Homo sapiens: one gene and its partners. The protein of the gene in region 3 purifies or fractionates together with the protein of the main gene of each other region. This does not show direct contact. Each region holds a gene or a part of one and is shown on either strand. Other genes may lie near its edges.

Region 1 (2,706 bases), on a different chromosome or scaffold from region 3:
ATGACTGTCCTGTTTCATTTCAGACATACCGGCAGATCAGGTTAAATGAGTTATTAAAGGAACATTCAAGCACAGCTAATATTATTGTCATGTAAGTAATATCTTTATAAAGATTTTCTTGCTAATTTATGATAATATGCTTTGAATTAATTTCTATTCCAAGTACATATCTATATAACACCCATATTGACTTAGTGGTTATAAGGAGGAAAAAACAAACTTGTAAAAATATACTATGCTTTAAGCATATGGAGAAAGACAAAAACTTTAACCTTATGCTTATATGAATCCCAAGTAATCTTTTTATCATAGTAGGTTATATTGGAACCTTTTGTTTACCCTTCTTCTCACCTTTTTAAAATTCCTTATCTTTGTAAACACTACAGCATAGCCGTTAAGCACGTGTGGATAGGAGGGTCCTACGTTAAAATTTGGGCCCCGGACAGCTTCCTCTTGAAAATAATTCAAAAAATGTTATTTGGCAGATTAAACTTGAATAGTGATTCCTATCTGGATCCCCATTCTTATGTTTCCAACACGCAAATTTTACATACAGACACATTGTCCTTGAGTTAAATATGATACTAAATGCCTACTTTGGCTCTTCCTCTACTGAACTAGGTTAGCTATTCTTTGAACCCACATTTTCTGAGTTCTGGAACATGTGTCCTTAGATAGGAAAGCTCAGGCCTCTCCCCCACAAAAAAAGCCAAGTAATGAAAAAAACTACCAAAAGATTGTTAGTTTAACAACATTCAATAAATCAAAAAGTTTCAAGTTTTGCTGATGATAATCAAATACCTGTAAATGGAAAAGACACCAAAACATAGAAATTTAGAGAAAAACTATACAGCAATTGGTCACTGCTGCCACCATCCATAAATAGAAATTAAAACTAAGAGAAGATAAAAATTGCATTTATCCATATATAGCTTCTGTTTTCTAAATTTTGATAGTAAACATACCTTTCACCTAAAAGAATTCTATTCTTATTAAAGAAGGGGAAACCTAGGATTTAGTGTTAGATATCAGAGGTACTGTGGTTTATAGAAATACTTACTGTTCTTATGAACAAATTTTGAAAAATCTTTTGTTGAAAGATTATAGTCTTTTATATATGCATATATGATGGTGGTACCATAAGATTATAATACCATATGTTAAGCTGGGCATGGTGGTGTGCACCTGTAGTCTCAGCTACTTGGGAGACTGAGGTGGGAGGATTGCTTGAGATCTGGAGTTTTGGAGTTTTGAGTCCAGCCTGGGCAATGTATTAAGACCCCATCTCTCTTAAAAAAATATATATATATTTTTACTGTATCTTTTCTGTATTTAGATATGCAAATGCTTACCATCGTGTTACAGTTGCCTATAGTATTCACTACAGTAACGTACTATACAGGTTTGTAGCTTAGGAGCAACAGGCTGTGTCATATAGCCTAGATGTGTAGTAGGCTATACCATCTAGGTTTGTGTAAGTACTCCTGTGATGTTTTCACGAGGGCAAAATTGCCTGACAGTAAGTTCTGAGAAATGCGTCTCCATCGCTAAGCAACACAACTGTGGTTGTTATTCTATTTGCAGAATTCTCCTGCACTCAGAAATATTCTGTAATTATAGTAATTTACAGTAACTGTTATTGTAATCTACTTTATAATTTTTGCTACATTTTATTCTGTAAATGCATTGCTCAGGGTTTTTTTTTTTTCTTTTTCTCTTTTTGATACCAGGAGTCTCCCAGTTGCACGAAAAGGTGCTGTGTCTAGTGCTCTCTACATGGCATGGTTAGAAGCTCTATCTAAGGACCTACCACCAATCCTCCTAGTTCGTGGGAATCATCAGAGTGTCCTTACCTTCTATTCATAAATGTTCTATACAGTGGACAGCCCTCCAGAATGGTACTTCAGTGCCTAGTGTAGTAACTGAAATCTTCAATGACACATTAACATCACAATGGCGAATGGTGACTTTTCTTTCACGATTTCATTAATTTGAAAGCACACAGGAAAGTTGCTCCATTGATAACGTGTATGGAGACTTCGGTTTTAGTCAATTCCATATCTCAATCTTAATGGTGATTCTTCTCTGTTGAACTGAAGTTTGTGAGAGTAGTTTTCCTTTGCTACTTGAATAGCAATAAAAGCGTGTTAACTTTTTGATTGATGAAAGAAGTACAAAAAGCCTTTAGCCTTGAGGTGCCTTCTGAAATTAACCAAATTTCATCCATATATCCTCTTTTATAAACTTATAGAATGTCAAACTTTGCCTTCAACTGTTTTTATTTCTAGTCTCTTCCACTTTAAAACAAAATGAACACTGCTTGTCTTCTTCCATTGACCATTTAGTGTTGAGTACTGTATGTGTTTTGTTAATTCTATAAAGGTATCTGTTAGATATTAAAGGTGAGAATTAGGGCAGGTTAATCAAAAATGGGGAAGGGGAAATGGTAACCAAAAAGTAACCCCATGGTAAGGTTTATATGAGTATATGTGAATATAGAGCTAGGAAAAAAAGCCCCCCCAAATACCTTTTTAACCCCTCTGATTGGCTATTATTACTATATTTATTATTATTTATTGAAACCTTAGGGAAGATTGAAGATTCATCCCATACTTCTATATACCATGCTTAAAAATCACGTCATTCTTTAAACAAAAATACTCAAGATCATTTATATTTATTTGGAGAGAAAACTGTCCTAATTTA
Region 2 (2,438 bases), on a different chromosome or scaffold from region 3:
AAAAACAAAACTAACATGGTCATTTGCAGAAGGGGCAGAAAAAGGGTCTCTGCCTAGACCTGGGGAGGTCAGGGAAAGTACTATGGATTGGTAACAACCGGCTGGGCTTCCTACAAGAGAAAAAGACTATACTCACAGAGCCAGACCCCATCTCAAAAAAAAAAAAAAAAAAAAGTCTGGCATGGTGGCTCAAACCTGTAATCCCAGCACCTTGGGAGGCTGAAGCAGGGGGATCACTTGAGCCTAGGAGTTTAACAACATAGTGAGACCTCATCACTACTTTTTTATTTTAAAAAAGAGTTAATAAAAAATAAAATGAAAATAAAAGGGTAAAAGAGCCAGTGGCAAAGTCTTGAGTGGATTAAAGCCAGCTCAGCTAACTTTCACAGCAGACTATATCATTTTAAAGGGGAAAAAGCACATCTCTGTTACATTGCTTAGGAAATATGCTTGGTATATACCCTGGGGCAATCTTATCTATTTGTTAAGTTTCCTTCCAACCCACTAGCCTGTGTGGCCAGGAGAGGGAGACAAAGATCTTAGAGCTCTCTAAATAATAGAACTTAAAACATCAGACAGAGAAGAGTATATTATCTTGGTGATGGTAATTCTCAATGAGGAAAATCCTGGGGAGGGATGTTCTGTGGGAGAATGCCTGCAAGTTTATTTGTTTAGTAGGTTTGATTATTCAGCTGATTGAAATTCCTTTCCCAGATGGGGAGATCTGATTCTCTTTTCATGAAGGAAAGAAAAGTCACATGCTAAAGAGACGGGCATGTCTTTAGAACGGCAGCAGGCAAACCCACTGCTGGGATCCTGGGGCTTTTACTAGTGGCTAGTCACAGGTTTACCTCCTGCCTGTGCTCCTTCTAGCTGTGTTGAAACCCACTTGCCCCATCTATGAACCGTGTTCAGCTCCATTTTCTGAGCCCCCTTATCTTTTTGTCCATACCTGTTGCAACTCTTTGCACGTTGCATTGTCATTGATTTGGTCTCTCCCATTCAACTGAGCCTCTCACAGAGTTCCTGTCACCTCTGCAGTTTCATCGCCTAGCATAGTACCTGGCACTTTAATTCATGCATCAAATGTCCATTGAGTGCCTTCTATGTGTTAGACATCTGCTATACCGAGCTAGACAAAGTTGGCAGACATGACAGCCGAGTGGAAAAGATGAGCCCCTAAACCAATAATCACACACACACACACACACACACACACACACAATATATATATATATATATATATATATATATATGTATGTTATATATATGTATGTTATATATATGTATGTATGTATGTATTAAAAAATCTTGGCCGGGAGCGGTGGCTCACACCTGTAATCTCAGCACTTTGGGAGGCCGAGGCAGGTGGATCACGAGGTCACGAGATCGAGACCATCCTGGCTAACATGGCGAAACCCCGTCTCTACTAAAAATACAAAACATTAGCCAGGCGTAGTGGCGGTTGCCTGTAGTCCCAGCTACTTGGGAGGCTGAGACAGGAGAATCACTTGAACCTGGGAGGCAGAGGTTGCAGTGAGCCAAGATCGCGCCACTGCACTCCAGCCTGGGTGACAGAGCGAGACTCCGTCTCAAAAAAACAAAAAATTTTTGCCTTGCAATCGTTTGCCTTGATGTTATGTCTAAAGCCCCACAATTCTCTAAAAACAGAGATGTATAAAAAAGCACACGTATATAATTCTCTGAAAACAGAATATAAATGAGTCATTGCTCCATTTAACTGACATTTGTTGAGTGCTTGTTATAAATATGGCATTATTCTAGCTGGTGTGAGGTTACCAATTTTTTTTAAACAAAAGTAATATGAATATATACACACACATTTAGTGACTGCATATGTGATGTGTGCTTTTGAAGAAAAAGGAGATGCTGTTGGAGGAAAATGGTGGTGGTGGTGGGAAGTGATTTAGAGTAGAACCAGGGAAGTCTCAGAAGTGACAACTAGCTGGAACCTAAAGAACGAGGAGGTAGCAGGTGGAAGAGAAAGGCAAAGGCATTCTAGGTTGAGAGAATAGGATGTGATAATGTCCCGAGGAAAGAGAGCTTACTGACAGGGAGGGAAGATGTCAGGTGTGACCGAACTGTAGTGAGCAAAGGGTAACTGAGGAGGTGGTCAGGAGCCTGCTCAGCCAATGGGGTAAATACTGTTAAGGAATTAGGACTTGATTTTAAGAACAACCATCGCATCATTTTAAAAGCAAACAAATTGCACTATAATTTCCCTCTTCAAAAAGGCACATTGGCTGTGCACGGTGGCTGACACATGTAATCCCAGCACTTTGGGAGGCTGAGGCGGGTGGATCACCTGAAGTCAGGAGTTCGAGACCAGCCTGGCCAATGTGTTGAAACCCCGTCTCTACCAAAAATACAAAAGTTAGCCAGGCGTGGTGACATGTGCCTGTAATCCCAGCTACTTG
Region 3 (3,500 bases):
CCCCACCCCCGTCCACCTCAACTTTGGTGCCCCTGCCCCGCAGCAAGCCACTGTCATCCGCGATGGAGACAAATTCCAGATCAACGCTGACCAACTGGTGGTGGGCGACCTGGTGGAGATGAAAGGTGGGGACAGAGTGCCCGCCGACATCCGCATCCTGGCGGCCCAGGGCTGCAAGGTGGACAACTCCTCGCTGACAGGGGAGTCTGAGCCACAGACCCGCTCACCCGAGTGCACGCACGAGAGCCCTCTGGAGACCCGCAACATCGCCTTCTTCTCCACCATGTGCCTTGAGGGTCTGTGAAGCCCCCGCCTGCCTGCCCAGTAACTGCTGCCTCCACTGGCCTCTCTCCTGCTATCTTCTAGGACAGGGGGCTTCAGCCTCCCTGTCTCTCTCCTGCATGACTGCCACCTCCCCGTGACTGCCACCTCCCCAGGGCACACTGCTTCTCTGTCTCCCACTGTCACTACCCTCTCCCAGGTCACATCCTCCACTGGCAGTGACTGGCTGTCCTTCAGCTCACACGGCAGTGCACACCCCACTGCCGCCCCCTATCCCTGAGTCGCGCCTTGGCCCCCCTGCAGGCACCGTGCAGGGCCTGGTGGTGAACACGGGCGACCGCACCATCATTGGGCGCATCGCATCGCTGGCGTCGGGGGTGGAAAACGAGAAGACACCCATCGCTATCGAGATCGAGCATTTTGTGGACATCATCGCGGGCCTGGCCATTCTCTTCGGTGCCACATTTTTTATTGTGGCCATGTGCATTGGCTACACCTTCCTGCGGGCCATGGTCTTCTTCATGGCCATCGTGGTGGCCTATGTGCCTGAGGGGCTGCTGGCCACTGTCACAGTGAGTGGGGGCAGGCGGGGATGCAGGGAGCTGAGGGGCCTGCTCAACCATCTGTTCTTTCCTCCACATTTCCCCCATCACCTCCCTGCCTGTCTATCTGTCCACTTAGCTCCCATCCATTCTCCTGCCTTCCCATCATCCACTCATTCAGCAAGTCCTTCCCGAGGCAACCCTGGGGCAAGTCCTGTGCCACACATTGAGGGCGCAGAGATGACGAGGCCGGGTCCTTAACTGGAAGAGGCTGATGTCCTGTGCAGGCAGCCAGCATGTCACCAGACCTTCCACAGTCAGCACCCAGCTCCAGACCAGTCCCCAGGGAGGTGCGGGGAAGGTTCCTCTTCTCATTTTGATTGTGTGAAGAGAATTTTCAGAACCTCGGCTGGGACAGCTCAGAGAGGGGCCTCGCTACTGTATCTGGGCAGACTGGGGAAGGAGTCCCAAACAAAGCACTGGCTGAACAAAAGCTGGGGCCAAGAAAACACCTGGTGTTTGCAGAAGCACGTTGCACACGCAGCCCCGCGGCTGGGGTAAAGCCTTCCCCGTTCTTTGACGCGGGGAAGAGGACTGGAAGCCAGGGTGGGTCCCCAGCCTGCGGTGCTCACCCCTTCCCCAGGTCTGCCTGTCCCTGACAGCCAAGCGCCTGGCCAGTAAGAACTGCGTGGTCAAGAACCTGGAGGCGGTGGAGACATTGGGCTCCACTTCGGTGATCTGCTCGGACAAGACAGGGACTCTCACTCAGAACCGCATGACTGTGTCCCATCTGTGGTTTGACAACCACATCCACACAGCTGACACCACGGAAGACCAGTCAGGTGTGGGGGAGGGAGGGCACAGGCGCCAGGGCAGGATCTGGTGGATGGTGGAGACCTGAAGAGGGATAGGGAGGTAGGGAGGGCTTTGTACGAAGGCGGGGCGGCTCGGCTCCAGGTCTCAAAGGAGACTCGCTACCGGGTCTAGAGGGAAGGGTCATCCGGGGGCTGGGTCCCTCAGGGTTGGGTGGAACCCAATTCCACCCAGGTCTGGGGAGGGGGCCCGCGATATGAGCCTAGGAGGAGGGGGCTCGGTTCTGGTCCGGGAGAGCCGCCGTGCGGGACCCAGCCTGGACGCCTGGTCTGCAGGGCAGACGTTTGACCAGTCCTCGGAGACGTGGCGGGCGCTGTGCCGGGTGCTCACCCTGTGCAACCGCGCCGCCTTCAAGTCCGGCCAGGATGCAGTGCCTGTGCCCAAGGTGAGAGCCAGGGGGCCTCCAGGGAATCCCGGGAGGCTGGTGTAGCCGGCTTCGCCCCTGACACCGGTCCCCGCTCCCAGCGCATCGTGATTGGAGACGCATCGGAGACGGCGCTGCTCAAGTTCTCGGAGCTGACGCTGGGCAACGCCATGGGCTACCGGGACCGCTTCCCAAAAGTCTGCGAGATACCCTTCAACTCCACCAACAAGTTCCAGGTGCGCAGCCGGCCCCGCCCACGGCCTGGGCCCGCCCACCTCGGGCCCCGCCCCAGGCCACACCCACATCAGCGGGCCACGAGGGGCTTCGCTCCTTGCCCCTTCTCTCCGCAGCCAAACCCCACCCCATCTCCCGCTCCGCCTATGGCCCCGTCCACCAGAGGCAAGGCCCCGCCCACCACCCAGCCCCGCCCACAGCTTCTCCTCGGCGGGACTGTCCATGGGGAGCACCTCGCTCTCCAAATCCGCCCCCAGCCCAACTCCGCACCCTAATTCTGTTCATTCCCTGCGTCCAGGACTCCAAATCTGCACCTAGCCCCGCCTTAACGCTTACCTTCTACCAAGGACCCCTCCACACAAGGCCTCCATCTTCCACCTTCACCCTTCCCCGCAGCTCTCAGAGCCCGCACCGAGCTCTCGGCCCCGCCCCTCTCCTCAGCCCCGCCCCGTTCCCTCGTCCACAGCCCCGCCCCGTTCCCCCGTCCACAGCCTCGCCTCTCCCCCCCGCCCACAGCTGTCCATCCATACGCTGGAGGACCCGCGGGACCCGCGACACTTGCTGGTGATGAAGGGCGCCCCCGAGCGCGTGCTGGAGCGCTGCAGCTCCATCCTTATCAAGGGCCAGGAGCTGCCGCTGGACGAGCAGTGGCGCGAGGCCTTCCAGACCGCCTACCTCAGCCTGGGAGGCCTGGGCGAACGCGTGCTCGGTGAGACCCCTGGGCAGGGGAGGAGACTCCAGGTGCGAGGAGGAGCTAGCACAGACCCTGCCCACCACTCCCGGCCCAGCCCTGACCGTCCTCATCCCTGGCTGCTGGCTGATTTGTCGCAGTCCACAGCCTCACCCTTGACTTTCCCTGTACCAGTCCTGACCCCTGTCTGTCCTCACTTTCTACCTTGACCCCAGTCCTCACCTGGACTTTTATCCGTATCCTGACCTCTAACCTCTCCCAATTTTTGTCCTGACGCCTTAAACTTCGCTGCCTCTACCCTAGAAAGCAGATCTGTGGTCCAATTCTGGGCCTTTTACTTGCTGTGTGACCTCTGGCAAGAAATGTCCCCTCTCTGAGCCTCAGTTTCCTCATCTGTAAGATGAGAATGGGCCTCACAGGGTGGTTGTGAGGGTAGATTCAGATAATGTGAGTGAAGGGGTCAGCACAAGGTCAGGCATCCATAGGTGTTTGGTGCAAGGGGCCTGGTTATTTT
Region 4 (3,500 bases), on a different chromosome or scaffold from region 3:
CTGGCTAATTTTTGTATTTTTAGTAGAGATGGGGTTTCGCCATGTTGGCCAGGCTGGTCTCGAACTCCTGACTTCAAGTGATCCACCTGCCTTGGCCTCCCAAAGCACTGGGATTACAGGCGTGAACCACCGTGCTGGGCCTGGCCTGTAATTTTTATCCCAACTCAGTTATAATGTATCATTCAATGTTGTATATCAGGGGTCAGGAAACCAGGCCCATAGACCAAATGTAGCCTGCTACCTGTTTTAGCACAGCGCCCATGCCAAGAATAGTGTTTACCTCTTTAAATAGTTAGGGGGAAAAAAATCAAAAGAAGAATAATAGTTTGTGACGTGAAAATTATATAGCAGTCAGATTTCAGTGTCCATAAATTTTTATTGGAACACAGCCACCCCCATTCATCTGTGCATTGGCTATGGCTGTCCATAAATAAAGTTTTATTGGAACACAGCCACCCCCATTCATCTGTGCATTGGCTGTGGCTGCTTTCACACTATGAAGACAGTGGAGTCACTGCAGCCTGCAAAGCCTAGAATATTTACTATCTGGCCCTTTACAGAAAAAGTTTGCCGACTCCCGCTGTAGAGACGCCTGGGTAAATTAAAGATGAGTATCGTGTATACACTTAAAGAGTAAAAGATGAGCTGGGCGCAGTGGCTTACACCTGTAATCCCACCACTTTGGGAGGCCAAGGCAGACAGATCACTTGAAGCCAGGAGTTCAAGACCAGCCTGGCCAACATGGCAAAACCCCGTCTCTACTAAAAATGCAAAAATTAGCCGGACATGGTGGCTCACACCTGTAATCCCAGCTACTCTGGGAGCTGAGGCATGACTGGCTTGAACCTGGGAGGTGGGGGTTGCAGTGGGCCGAGATCACGCCACTGCCCTCCAGCCTGGGCAACAGAGTGAGACCCTATCTCAAAAAAAAAAAAAGAAAAAAGAAAAAAGAAATGCGAAGTCTACAGTGAAGAAGGAAGAAGTGAAGAACACATCCGCTTTGGGAGTAGCCAGTGATGTGGGAAACTGCCTTGCCACTCCCAGAGGGCAGTATCTTGTGGCTGCAGGGTTTGCTGTGTTTTCTGGAAACAGACTTTGCTCTTGTGCTCTGTCCTTCCCATCCCTCTCAACTTGGGGTCCTGAATTTTGCTCCAGGACTTACACCAGAGGATCGATAAGTTCCGTTTCACCCCACCTTTGGAGGACAGCTGCTTCCACTATGGCTTCAACTCCAACTACCTGAAGAAAGTCATCTCCTACTGGCGGAATGAATTTGACTGGAAGAAGCAGGTGGAGATTCTCAACAGATACCCTCACTTCAAGACTAAGATTGAAGGTATGTTTGCAAAACGCCAGCCAGAGAGGGATGTATGTCATGAGAACAGCCTTCTTCCACAATGTGACTTACAGTCAGATAAAGTTGGAGAGATTCAGAACCCAATTATAGGTGACTGAGATGTACTTATACGTTGTAACCTTACTAAATGCAAAAATATTGCAGTCACAACAAATCTGTCCATCTTTAGAGCTAGGCAGGAACACATACATGCAATTTAAAAACCAAAGAAATGCACCATCCAGTCCAATGATGTGGCAATCTTTGAGAGGAAGGATGGAGATGAGATTTAGACCCAGGCCAAGTGGGGTGGCTCAGAACTGTAATCCCAGCACTTTGGGAGGCTGAGGTGGGTAGATCACGAGGTCAAGAGTTCAAGCAGCCTGGCCAAGATGGTGAAATCCCATCTCTACTAGAAATACAAAAAATAGCCAGGTGTGTTGGCAGGCAGCTGTAATCCCAGCTACTCTGGAGGCTGAAGCAGAGAATTGCTTGAAGCCAGGAGGCGGAGGTTGCAGTGAGCCAAGATCGCGCCACTGCACTCCAGCCTGGGCTCCATCTCAAAGAAAGAAAAGACTCTGCTCTCAGTTCTTTTGGATCTATACTCAGAAGTGGACTTGTTGGATCATACGGTAATTCTGCGTTTAATTTTCTGAGGAACCGCCATACTGCGTTCCGCAGCAGCTGCACCATTTTACTTTCCCACCCAACAATGCCTCAGAATCCCGATTCTCCAAATCCTTGCCAATATTTTTTTCCTTTCTTTTTTTCGGTAATGGTCATCCTAATGGGTATGAAATGGTATCACATTGTGGTTTTGAGTTGCATTTTCCTAATGATTACTGATGTTGAGCATTTTTTATGCGGTACTTATTGGATTCTTTGTAATTTCTCCGAAGAAATGTCTGTTCATGTCTTTTGTCCATTTTTTGGGTGTTTTATTAGGGTTTAGGAGTTCTCTATATATTCTGAATAAAATCTCTTATATTTGCAAATGTTTTCTCCCACTCTGTGGGTTGCCATACAATTAATCTTTTTCAGAGACAAGGTCTTGCTGTGTTGCTCAGGCTGGAGTGCAGCGGCTATTCACAGGCGTGATCATGGCTCACCACAGCCTCGAACTCCTGGGCTCAAGCAATCCTCTCGCCTCAGACCTCCTGAATAGCTGGTACTATAGGCGAGCACCACTGTGCCCAGCTTGTTAATTTTTTATATTGAAGAAATTGTACATGTTAGGAATCTTATTTTTAATGTTTTAAGATAATTTGGCCTTTTCAAGGAACAGTGAAGATTTTAATTTGTTAAAATTCTAGGAATTACTTAAAGTGTATGAAAGACATGTTGGTCAGTCAGATAAACTAAAGTTCCTAAAAAAAGGAAATTGAAATTATAGTGTTAACTGGGTGTGGTGGCATGCACCTGTAGTCCCAGCTACTCAGGAGGCTGAGGCAGGAGGATTGCTTGAGCCCAGGAATTCAAGGCTGCAGTGAGCTACAAGGACACCACTGCACTGGGTGACAGATCAAGACCCCATCTCTTAAAAAAAGAGAGAGAGGCTGGGCACGGTGGCGCACGCCTGTAATCCCAGCACTTTGGGAGGCTGAGGCAGGTGGATCACGAGGTCAGGAGGTTGAGACCATCGTAGCTAACACGGTGAAATCCTGTCTCTAATAAAAATACAAAAAATTAGCCAGGTGTGGTGGCGGGTGCCTGTAGTCCCAGCTACTCGGGAGGATGAGGCAGGAGAATGGCGTGAACCCAGGAGATGGAGCTTGTGGTGAGCTGAGATCACACCACTGCACTCCAGCCTGGGCGACAGAATGAGACTCTGTCTTTAAAAAAAAAAAAAAAAAACAGGCTGGGCGCCGTGGCTCACGCCTGTAATCCCAGCACTTTGGGAGGTCAAGGCGGGCAGATCACAAGGTCAGGAGATCGAGACCATCCTGGTCTAACTTGGTGAAACCCCGTCTCTACTAAAAATACAAAAAATTAGCCGGGCGTGGTGGCAGGCGCCTGTGGTCCCAGCTACTTGGGAGGCTGAGGCAGAAGAATAGCGTGAACCCGGAAGGCGGAGCTTGCAGTGAGCCCAGATTGCGCCACTGCACTCCAGCCTGGGTGACAGGGCAAGACTCTGTCTCAAAAAAAAAAAAAAGAAAAAAAAAAA
Region 5 (2,366 bases), on a different chromosome or scaffold from region 3:
AGCCTAGGGCTGCTGTCTGCCCTACCCCTCAACACATACACTGCACACACACACAAACACACACACACACACAGCCATCCCAACAGTATCAGTCATTTCTGTCCTCTTCCTGATAGCATCTGTGGTAGGCAGAATAATTCCCCTTCTCCAAAGATGTCCATGTTCTAATCCTGTGCATTGTTCTTATCTTACATGGGAAGAAACTTGGTGATTAAGATTTTGAGATGGGATGATTATCCTTGGTTATCTAGTTAGGCCCAGTGTAATCCCAAGGGTTCTTGAGGAGACAAGGAGGTCAAATGTGGAGGTAGGAGTTGTGACAATGGGAGCAAGAGATTGGAGTGATGTGTGGAAGGAGGAACAAGCCCTACTGACATCTGACTGCTGACCTCCGAACTGTAATAGAATAAATGCATTACCACTAAATTCGTGCTAATAACAGTAATAGGAAATTCAAATACCATCCTTCTGATTTGGGGAACAAAGGTGACTAACACATATTTTATTATAAATATTTATTTTAAAAAATTTCTTGGCAGTTAAAAGGAAGTGGCATAATGAGCAGGACAGGACAGTTACCGGCTCCCCCTCAGATGCCTCTGGCTGGCTTCTCACATTCTCCAAGATCCAGCCTCTAGGCTCCAGTCTCGGCTACCTCTGCTGGGCGGTAGCTCACACCCCCTTTGGTTCCCCTTCTGTGTGTACACAACAGGAAAGGCTAATCAGAAAACTGGCCCAGGAGCAGCTCATTTGCATGCGCTTTGCATGAAGTGACTCCACAAGGGTGGGGGAAGCTTGTGCCTGAAGAAAGGGTCAGTGTAATACCTGTGCTGCCTTCTCATCTGCACAAGGAACGCGACGCTGGTGACAGCAAAAAGGAGGCCAAAAACCAGGGCTAGGATGTCACCTGCGATGGAGAGCAGAGAGGGCTGCTTTGGGAAGGAAGAGGGGTCTGCAGAGTTCCTCAACACCTGCCTCAGTGCACTCCACCACCCCTGCCCCGAGTTCTCAGGCAGCCCCTAGTGCCTCAGTCTCCAGAAGAGGCCAGCCAAGGGATGAGGGTGGATACACGAGAAGGGGTAAGATAAGCACCGTTTTTGCTTCCTAAAAGCCAAGTAAAAGGGCCGTTTGGGGCCAGGCACAGTGGCTCATGCCTACAGTCCCAGTGCTTTGAGAAGCTAAGGTGAAAGGATTGCCTGAGCCTAGGAGTTCGAGGCTGCAGTGAGCTATGATCGTGCCACAACACCCCAGCCTGGGCAACAGAGTGAGACCCTATCTTTAAAAAAAGGGGGGGGATTGTTTTGCGAGAGGGATGCTGGGAGATTTCTCAAGCTTCATTCTAATCAATTAGCCTCTGGGGACAATGGGGGAATCCCCACCATGATCTGCCTCTCTAATATTGGGGTTGGGGTCTGTTCTGCAGAAAAGGAGAGGGAGCAGAGGCGGTCCTGAGCAGCCCTGGGGCTGAATGGTGCTGAGGAGTCTCCTGGCATCAGGACCAAGAGGAGGGGCAGACTCACCAGCAGCCAGGCAGGAATTCAGCTGGACTGGAGAGAAAAAGGAGATGTGAGAGGCGGGCTGTGACCACCAATGACAGACACTGGCACACACATGGGAGGATAAGGGACTACTGGCTGGGGGGAAACCAGACAAAGCTGTACCTGGCTCAGCAGCCCGAGGACTGCTGTCCACTCCAGCAGGGAAGGAGGCCTCAATCACTCGCCCATTCAAAGGCTGCGTCGCTCGGAAGTTCAGCTGTAGCCGAGAGTCACCAGGTCCCCACAGGGTGTCAGAGAGGGTGTGGAGCTAGGGAGGTCAGTGGACAGTGTGGGTGGGTTCATGGCATGACAGGAAACAAGGGTCCCAGGCCAGCTCACAACCAGCACCTCAGGGCTCCACCCTCCAGCTCCTGTATTCCCCATCCAGCCTCTTGATTTCTTTTATAAATAAATAAATGTATCCTAAAGATGGTAGGCAGTGGTGGGATCATAGCTCACTGCAGTCTCAAACTCCTGGAATCAAGCGATCTTCCCACCTCAGCCTCCTTGAGTAGCTGGGACTAGGCGCATACCACCATGCCCGGCTATTTTTGGTTTTGTTGGGGTTTTTTTGGTAGAGATGGGGTCACACTATGTTGCCCCGCCTTGTCTTGAACTCCTGGGCTCAAACCATTCTCCCACCTCAGCCTCCCAACGTGGTGGGATTATAGGCGTAAGCCACAGAGCCCAGCCTTGATTTCTTTCTTCTCCTGTTTCTCATCTCATCTTACATCCTCTTTCCCCCGCACCCACTGTGTCCACACACACCCCAGGCCCACCTGCTTAGCACTCAGCATCACTGTCTGGTTAAACACAGTCCAGATGACA
Region 6 (3,500 bases), on a different chromosome or scaffold from region 3:
AGAATGGTCAGCATTACTTTTCAAACCTCAGATTCTGTATCACTAAAGTGGGAGTAACAGACATATCTCACAGGGTTGTTGTGAAGATCAAATGAGTTAATGGATAAGAAGGGGTTGTGTAAAATGTAAAGTGTGATGCAAATGTGAGTTTCTATTATGAATAAGATTGTGCTCAAGTTGGTGAAGGCTGGGCTGGTGCATTCCATTCATTTGGTCTTGGGATCCCAAGGTCCACTTGAACTACAGGTGAGGGTGGGATGCCCGGCAAGACCCCACAGGTGATACCCAGCAGAAGCGAAGGTGGGAGAATGAACCTACCCCCAGCGCCTGTGCCCAGCCCCTCGCCTGGCCCTTAGTGTGTACTCAACACATACTTGTTGAGCGAATTGATAAATGGTGTTTTGGAGGAGACATGGGCAGAAATGAGTAAGGGCAATGGCATGTGAGACATTTCAGTGGGAGAAATGAGAGACCGGGTGGCTTAGGGAAAACAGCACAAGTTTGAGAGCCAGATGACCTGGGTTCAAAGATTCAGTTTCTTCATCTGTAAATGGGGATAATAACAGTCGCAGGCAGATGCTATGAGGATTCAGTGAGATCATGTGTATGAAGAGGCTGGCCTTTTATAGGCACCCAGTAAATGGTAGTGGCGATGATTACTATGATTAAGATGGGAGGGTGCTTTCTACCTCCTAGCAGAGACTATTCAGAGGCTGCCGGCCCTTCACCGCCCGTGAGGCGGGGTGGTCTCACTCTTCCTCTCCACCTGCTCCAGAGTCTGCATGGGTCTGGCTGTCCAGGTGGTTTGCCTGCGGGGGCTCAATGAGTGGGGAGCATGACCTCCCCACATAGGAACCCAGAGCTGCAGACCTTGCTTCAGAAAAAGACTCATGGTTTGGGGAGTCTAGCCCAGGCCACTAAACAGACCACTTGCAAAAAAAAAAATAGCCAAAAATTTCAAGGGGGGCTGAGTCAGAAAAGAAGAGCCCTTTGGAAGAGGAGGTGATGGGTGATCTTGCTTCCACACCAACCAGCAGGCAGCGATCCCTGAAGTATGTTCCTAGGCTGCTTTCAAAGGGTCTAAGTTCCGGTAGTGTGTTTGCGGGGAAGGGAGTTATTAGCATCTGATTCCGCTGAACCCTACTATCCCAGCCCCCGTCCCCAGGATTTCCCCACTTCCTCAGTGGTACCTTTCTTCCTGCCACCCAGCCCACCCCCATCCTTGTTCCTGTCCTCTCCCTACCCCTCAGCCTCCATATTCAGTTGTTCATCAAATCCTATTGCTATTTCCTTCCTTCCTTCCTCCCTCGCTTCCTTCCTTCCTTCCTTCATGTCCTTCTGTCCTGTCCATTGCCTCCATACCTCCACCCACCCTGTCCCATTGCCTCCCTCTTCAAGTCTTATCTCATGTTTGGACTATTGCAAAAATTGATCTGCTGGTCTCCAGCCATGCCCCTCCAACCCAGCCTAAACTCCCTGCTCCGAAACCTCTATCTCCCTCATTTCCAGGAGGATGAGGCCCAAACTCCTTATTTTGGCATTTTTGTTTTTTTATCCTCTGGCCTTGTATTGGTGGATTCAGGAAATCTGTTGGCTGGGTCCCTCCACACCATCTGGGCTGGTCTGTTCTGCACCCACCAAACAAGCCTGAGTCTCTGTTCCCACTTTCCTCCTTACCTGAGGTGCCCTGACTCATTTCTGCCTTTCTAGATCTGCCCATCCTTAAGACCTGTTGAAGTTCCTCCTCCAACCCTCTCCTTCCTCTCCCACTCTTTTCCCTTCTCCTTCTTGCCTATGAAGCCTTTCCTGACCACCTTGAAACCCTGAAGGATTTCTCTTTCTCCCAGGATCTCCATGTGCACCCCTCCAGCCTGTACACTAGTGTTGGCTTTGGCCATTTTTCTTTGGGAGGAAAGCGGCAGGGGTGGTGGAAGTCCTTCAGAGAGCAACAGGTAGGTGACTCAGGACCAGCTCTGCCCCTCTGGGCAGACTCACTGACAGATGGAGCACCAGATACTAGGGAGTCCCCTCTGACACAGGCTAACAGAGGAAAAGCCTCCCTTGCTTTACTGGAATACCAAATCTGTCTCTTTCCCATGCCATCTGCCCATCCCAGGAATAGGATGCTGAAGGGGAGAAGGCTCTGGGAGCTTTCACAATCCTGAGTTTGCATAAAGAGGAGAACCCAGCAGCCAGTCAGAGTCAGAAAGTTTTGTGTAGAAGAGAACTTGAGGACCACATTTGTCCAATTGTCTCATTTTGCAGATAAAGAAACTGCACTTGATTTAACTCCAGTGTTCCTATTCGAAGGGGCTTCAGACCTTCCAGGGACAAAGCTGATCTCAGGACAATGTTTTCCCCTGAGTGGCACTCAGAATGCCCCTTTCTGACCACCCTGGTGACCTTGCCACCCCAGCTGATGGGACAGGACCTCTGGGTTCTGTTACTCCTCTTGAGGGCTCTGGTTCCCTCCTGGCCTTGGTTTCCCAAGAATATGATGGCCAGAGTTGCAAATCTGCAGCCACAGGAACTGCCCCAGCTCCTGCTGAGAAGGCGCCCTCAACATACTTCCTAATTCCAAGAATAGGGGTTGAGGTGGGGTGGGACGTAGAAGACAAGGGTACTTCATCCCCAGCCAGCCCTTCAGGTGAGGGCAAGAGGTGGAGGGAAGGGGGATGGGAGTGGTGGAAAAGGGTGGGTGGCATGGTGGGGAGGAGGAGTCTCAGAGAACTAGCAGGGATGGGAGTCCCAGGGAATCCTCAGAGAGGGTGTCTCACGATGCCAGATGCTACATTAGGGGCAGGAAAGTGGAAGAGGGAGCAAGAAAGAGAGCCAGGTATAGGGAACATAACAATCTGATCCCCAGTTAAACAAACAAACAGCCATGATAAGTGATGTCAGCATCGCTGGAAAAAAAAGTCAAGTGCCCTATTGCCAGAGGCGTGTATCTACAAGCCCTGCCCCCACCACCCCTCCACTGCCTTCCATCCCCCTACCGGGCCAGGGATAAATAGCAGGTGCCATGTGATAATACTGAGAAACAAAAGGGTGACCCTGCCCCTCCTCCACTGTGCAGGGAAGGGGGGCAGGTCCTAAAGAGCTGGAGGGACTTAGAGGGGGTCTGTAGGGTTTAAGGGGAGTAGGGGGTGAGCCAGGAGAGCAGAGGGCAGGAGATGTGGGTGCATGGGCCACTCCCATGCACTGGCAGGAGAGTGGGTCAAATCTGGAGCAGAGGGGATGCAGGGGTCGTGCGAGCCGGAGTAGCTGGGAGAGGGGAAGCAAAGAGAAAATAGACCCTGCAGGGAGGGCACAGGCTGGAGCAGATTCCCTCTTGAGATTCTCCAGGATTTCTCCTCCAATGAGCTCATGCCAAAGCACGCCCCTGGTACCTTCTCCCAGTCACATTTCTAACCAGGTCTCTGTCAACACCATCCAAATATTGTAGGCAGAGATGGGCTTGGGCAGAGATGGGCTCAGGCAGAGACAGTGCCCGAGTGGAT
Region 7 (3,500 bases), on a different chromosome or scaffold from region 3:
GATAAAGTTTGTGTTGAGTACATCTAGGCTGGGTGTGGTAGCTCACGCCTGTAATCTCAGCACTTTGGGAGGCCAAGGCAGGTGGATCATCTGAGGTCAGGAGTTCGAGACCAGCCTGGACAACATGGTGAAACCCTGTCTCTGCTAAAAATACAAAAATTAGCCAGGTGTGGTGGCAGGCGCCTGTAATCCCAGCTACTCAGGAGGCTGAGGCAGGAGAATCCCTTGAGCCTGGGAGGCAGAGGTTGCAGTGAGCCAAGATCGTGCCATTGCACTCCAGCCTGGGGTATAGAGTGAGGCTCTGTCTCCAAAAAAAAAAAAAAAAAAAGTACATCTAAATGGTACGATGCCCATGTTGGCCTATTTGGAATGCCATTCCTTGTCCCACAGAGCCCTGCTCCTCAGAGGCACTTTTCCTGGAGTGACTCTCCCCTTCCTCACCTACACTCACTGTCATTCAGCTGTAGATGCACCAGCGATCATGCTAGTGGTTAAAATATCGAAATACTCCCATCCTGGCTAGAGAATAGCTGCTACCCAAGTGCCCCCGCCCTTCATATGGAAACTAAAGGGTTAATACATGGGGCAGTAGAGGAACTTTGGAGCCCTGTTTTGGTGCACTGGCCTGTGTCTTTTCTGGCTGGTTGGTGTCTGGCCGTACTGGCTATTAAATATTTTGATGAGCATCCCAGCCTCTGTCCCACGTGCATCTTTTCATGAGTGCATATCTGGCTTCCACAGATTGGCACCCCAGCCACACTCTAAGCTCTGGGCACATGGGAGACCTAGTCATTGTCATCTCTGTGTTTTCAGCAGCGTTTAATACAGGGCCTTACCGCTAGTAAGCATGTAAGATTATCTAATGATGGATTGAGGGTAGGGCAGGTTCCGATGGTCAGATGTCCCATAGAAGGTGGTCCCTAACAAGAATATACATTGTAATGTTCCAGGTTTGTCTATTCTGATACTGTGCAAAACGTAGATCTTATAGCCAAGATCAAGGCATCGAAAGTCTGTGGACCTAAGCCTGTGCTTTCACTGAGTGAAGTTTGTGTTTCGGAGTACATCTGAGGTGTTTCTTTCCGTGTAGTTTCACTTGTGTTGGAGAAGCAGGTGGCTGTGGTCTTTGCAGGGTGTGAGAGGGGAGGAGATTAGTGTTGAGCTCCAGCTAATGTTACATAACTCTACTGTAGTCTTCCTTTACCTGGTATTCTTGTGTTCAAATTGCCCCTTGTTTCTGTGCCACTAGTGAAATGGTCAAATGGCTCATTGTTCCTTCTGTAGGACAGTTACCTACATTGCGCCTCAGGCAAGCTTCTGAGGCATCCCAGGATGGGGAGCTGGCGGGGGACCTTATCTGTCAAGCAGCCCAGCCAGGCACCTCACAGTGGACGGAACTGAGTTCTTGAGGGGGTGGCTGAGCAGCCCAGACTCCCAGGTTAGACTCTGAAGACAGCCAGTCTGTGCTTTTCTCTCCTGATGTGAGTCAGAGGCAAACTCTGCCGATGCCAAGACCTCCCTAGAGTTCAGGCAGGGTGAAGATCCTTGTCCTTGGGGTCAGGGCTGAAGCTTCAGGGTGTCCAGGACAGACCTTCAGAGGAGGCCAGCCCTGGAGCCTGGCGTGGGTCTCGGCCTCAAGCCTCTCTGTCCTGCAGAGAGGCCGGCTCAGTCTCTTCACCCTCTCAGGCAGGCCAGGCGACGGTCACCAGTAGCGTCCTGCTCTCTCTGGCATGCTTCCCTTCATCACTGGGTGATGCTGAGTGTCTTTTCCTCCCTCTTTGATGTGACAGTCCCTTTTTGCAGGCTTTTGCAGGCACTGTCCCTCTGCCTCCCAGGTGTGGCACGCATTTCAGGGTGCCTCCATTAGCAGTTTCATGCATTGTTGCCCATGGTGGGGAACAGATGGAGACACAAGGCAGGCAAGCCACCAAAGAGGCTGCAGGGCTGCTCAGGAGATGGAAGGACTGTCTCCAGAGTGGGGTGTATGCCCCATAGTGGCTGCCTAGACCATCCATTAGATTGTAGAATAGAATAGAAACATTAGAACTTCTATGGATAGTTATTTTTTGGCCATCTTTTAAATTCATATTTGTGTGTTTTCTAATGGTCAGAAAATACTTGTATATGGTTTATAGATAAAAGCATTTAATGTGAGGGGTGCATTTATTTATTGGGGTACATCATCAGAAGTCTAGAGAACCAGAAAGTTAACTCCTTCTCTAGCACCAGTATCATGAGAGACCTCTGAATGCCATTTTTTAAAAAGGAAAGAATTTGTCAATTAAAGGGGAATAGAAACTGCTCTCTGGCTAGGTTGTGATTCATGTCAAATAGGCCTGTGACTTAAGGAGAGTCAGGTTAACTCCAGAGTATGTTTTGTCTCTGGTCCCAAAACTTAGCAGTGTGGAAGCCTCATTGGGATCAGGGTTTTATTTTTTTCTCTTTTGTTTACTATCATATCCCCTGAGGCTGGAGCTGACTTGCATATCCTCAATATTTGCAAATTGAATATATGGGCGTTTTTCTTGCATGATAATTAAGTATTATGCTGAGTTGGATGCTTCAAGTCAATATTCAGGTTGCCTCCTTTTGTTTAAACCTTTGGGCAGTTGGCAAGATGCAGCCTACATGCCAGTCAGTTTTACTGTCCTGCACATGATACCCCCACGCGGTAGAACCATAGAGCCGTGGAGGCCTCAGAAATGTCACCTGAGAGACAGGGTGTTGGGATGTAACTTAAAGTAATTTTTTAAGAAGTGGGTATAATGAAACAGCAAAACGTTGATCATTACTGAAGCTGAAGTTGGAGTCACGGGTACATAAAATATAGTTTTATTATACTTCTGTGTCTACTTTTGAATAGATTTGAATTTTCATAATAAATTTTAAGTGAAACATAAAGGGAATATAGAGACCCCAAACTAGTATCACCCATTCCGAGCAGGTAATGGCCGAACTGCATAGTCTCTTTTTCTTTCTGTCTTTTAAACACTGGTCATTATTCTATAATCTTCTGCAACTTGTTAGGTTTGTTTTGATTTTGGCTTCCCCAGAGCCAGTCACCTCTTTTTATAGTTACCTGAGCTCTTTGTGTAATTTTAGCTCATGTCTCGTGGTTGTCACCAGTACCTCTCTTCTCCTTCCCAATACGATGAGCTAAATCCTGGTTAACCTTTTCCCTATTTCACTTGTTGCTTCCTCCAACACCACTGAGGTCTTCCACATGACAGGCACAATTCAGAGGCCAGAACAGGGTCCCATGTTTTTTGCAGGCTGCGTCCAGTCCTGGGGAACCTCATAGCCTGTGATTATCTTCTAGATTCCATTCATGTCTGCTTTTTTTTTTTTCTTTTGGATGGCGTCTCTGTTGTCCAGGCTGGAGCGCAGTGGTGCCATCTTGGCTCACTGCCGCTGCGCCCCCCACAGGTTCAATCGACTCTCCTGCCTCAGCCTCCGAGTAGCCGGGACTACAGGTGTGTGCCATCACGCCTGGCTAATTT

Evidence for each region.
Region 1: the proteins of ATP4A (region 3) and SLC12A2 purify together in Homo sapiens (affinity purification with mass spectrometry, with the first as the bait; one study listed by BioGRID). This does not show direct contact.
Region 2: the proteins of ATP4A (region 3) and KCNE2 purify together in Homo sapiens (affinity purification with western blotting, with the first as the bait; one study listed by BioGRID). This does not show direct contact.
Region 4: the proteins of ATP4A (region 3) and EPHX1 purify together in Homo sapiens (affinity purification with mass spectrometry, with the first as the bait; one study listed by BioGRID). This does not show direct contact.
Region 5: the proteins of ATP4A (region 3) and CA9 purify together in Homo sapiens (affinity purification with mass spectrometry, with the first as the bait; one study listed by BioGRID). This does not show direct contact.
Region 6: the proteins of ATP4A (region 3) and SLC26A9 purify together in Homo sapiens (affinity purification with mass spectrometry, with the first as the bait; one study listed by BioGRID). This does not show direct contact.
Region 7: the proteins of ATP4A (region 3) and ACSL1 purify together in Homo sapiens (affinity purification with mass spectrometry, with the first as the bait; one study listed by BioGRID). This does not show direct contact.

Annotation. Positions count from the first base shown.
Region 1 is NC_000005.10:128,184,766-128,187,471, forward strand, and holds part of SLC12A2 (solute carrier family 12 member 2), read left to right. Parts: exon of another isoform or gene 1-23; coding exon 24-91; intron 92-1,730; coding exon 1,731-1,866; 3' UTR 1,867-2,706. UniProt on the Homo sapiens protein: Cation-chloride cotransporter which mediates the electroneutral transport of chloride, potassium and/or sodium ions across the membrane. Plays a vital role in the regulation of ionic balance and cell volume.
Region 2 is NC_000021.9:34,367,006-34,369,443, forward strand, and holds part of KCNE2 (potassium voltage-gated channel subfamily E member 2), read left to right. Parts: intron 1-2,438. UniProt on the Homo sapiens protein: Ancillary protein that functions as a regulatory subunit of the voltage-gated potassium (Kv) channel complex composed of pore-forming and potassium-conducting alpha subunits and of regulatory beta subunits.
Region 3 is NC_000019.10:35,557,159-35,560,658, reverse strand, and holds part of ATP4A (potassium-transporting ATPase alpha chain 1), read left to right. Parts: intron 1-43; coding exon 44-296; intron 297-585; coding exon 586-854; intron 855-1,467; coding exon 1,468-1,666; intron 1,667-1,972; coding exon 1,973-2,082; intron 2,083-2,162; coding exon 2,163-2,297; intron 2,298-2,811; coding exon 2,812-3,004; intron 3,005-3,500. UniProt on the Homo sapiens protein: The catalytic subunit of the gastric H(+)/K(+) ATPase pump which transports H(+) ions in exchange for K(+) ions across the apical membrane of parietal cells.
Region 4 is NC_000001.11:225,830,624-225,834,123, forward strand, and holds part of EPHX1 (epoxide hydrolase 1), read left to right. Parts: intron 1-1,155; coding exon 1,156-1,336; intron 1,337-3,500. UniProt on the Homo sapiens protein: Biotransformation enzyme that catalyzes the hydrolysis of arene and aliphatic epoxides to less reactive and more water soluble dihydrodiols by the trans addition of water.
Region 5 is NC_000009.12:35,679,294-35,681,659, reverse strand, and holds the end of CA9 (carbonic anhydrase 9 precursor), read right to left. Parts: coding exon 2,318-2,366; intron 1,807-2,317; coding exon 1,662-1,806; intron 1,548-1,661; coding exon 1,521-1,547; intron 908-1,520; coding exon 826-907; intron 696-825; coding exon 635-695; 3' UTR 501-634; downstream 1-500. UniProt on the Homo sapiens protein: Catalyzes the interconversion between carbon dioxide and water and the dissociated ions of carbonic acid (i.e. bicarbonate and hydrogen ions).
Region 6 is NC_000001.11:205,936,957-205,940,456, forward strand, and holds part of SLC26A9 (solute carrier family 26 member 9), read right to left. Parts: intron 1-3,500. UniProt on the Homo sapiens protein: Ion transporter that can act both as an ion channel and anion exchanger.
Region 7 is NC_000004.12:184,815,969-184,819,468, reverse strand, and holds part of ACSL1 (long-chain-fatty-acid--CoA ligase 1), read left to right. Parts: intron 1-3,500. UniProt on the Homo sapiens protein: Catalyzes the conversion of long-chain fatty acids to their active form acyl-CoAs for both synthesis of cellular lipids, and degradation via beta-oxidation. Preferentially uses palmitoleate, oleate and linoleate.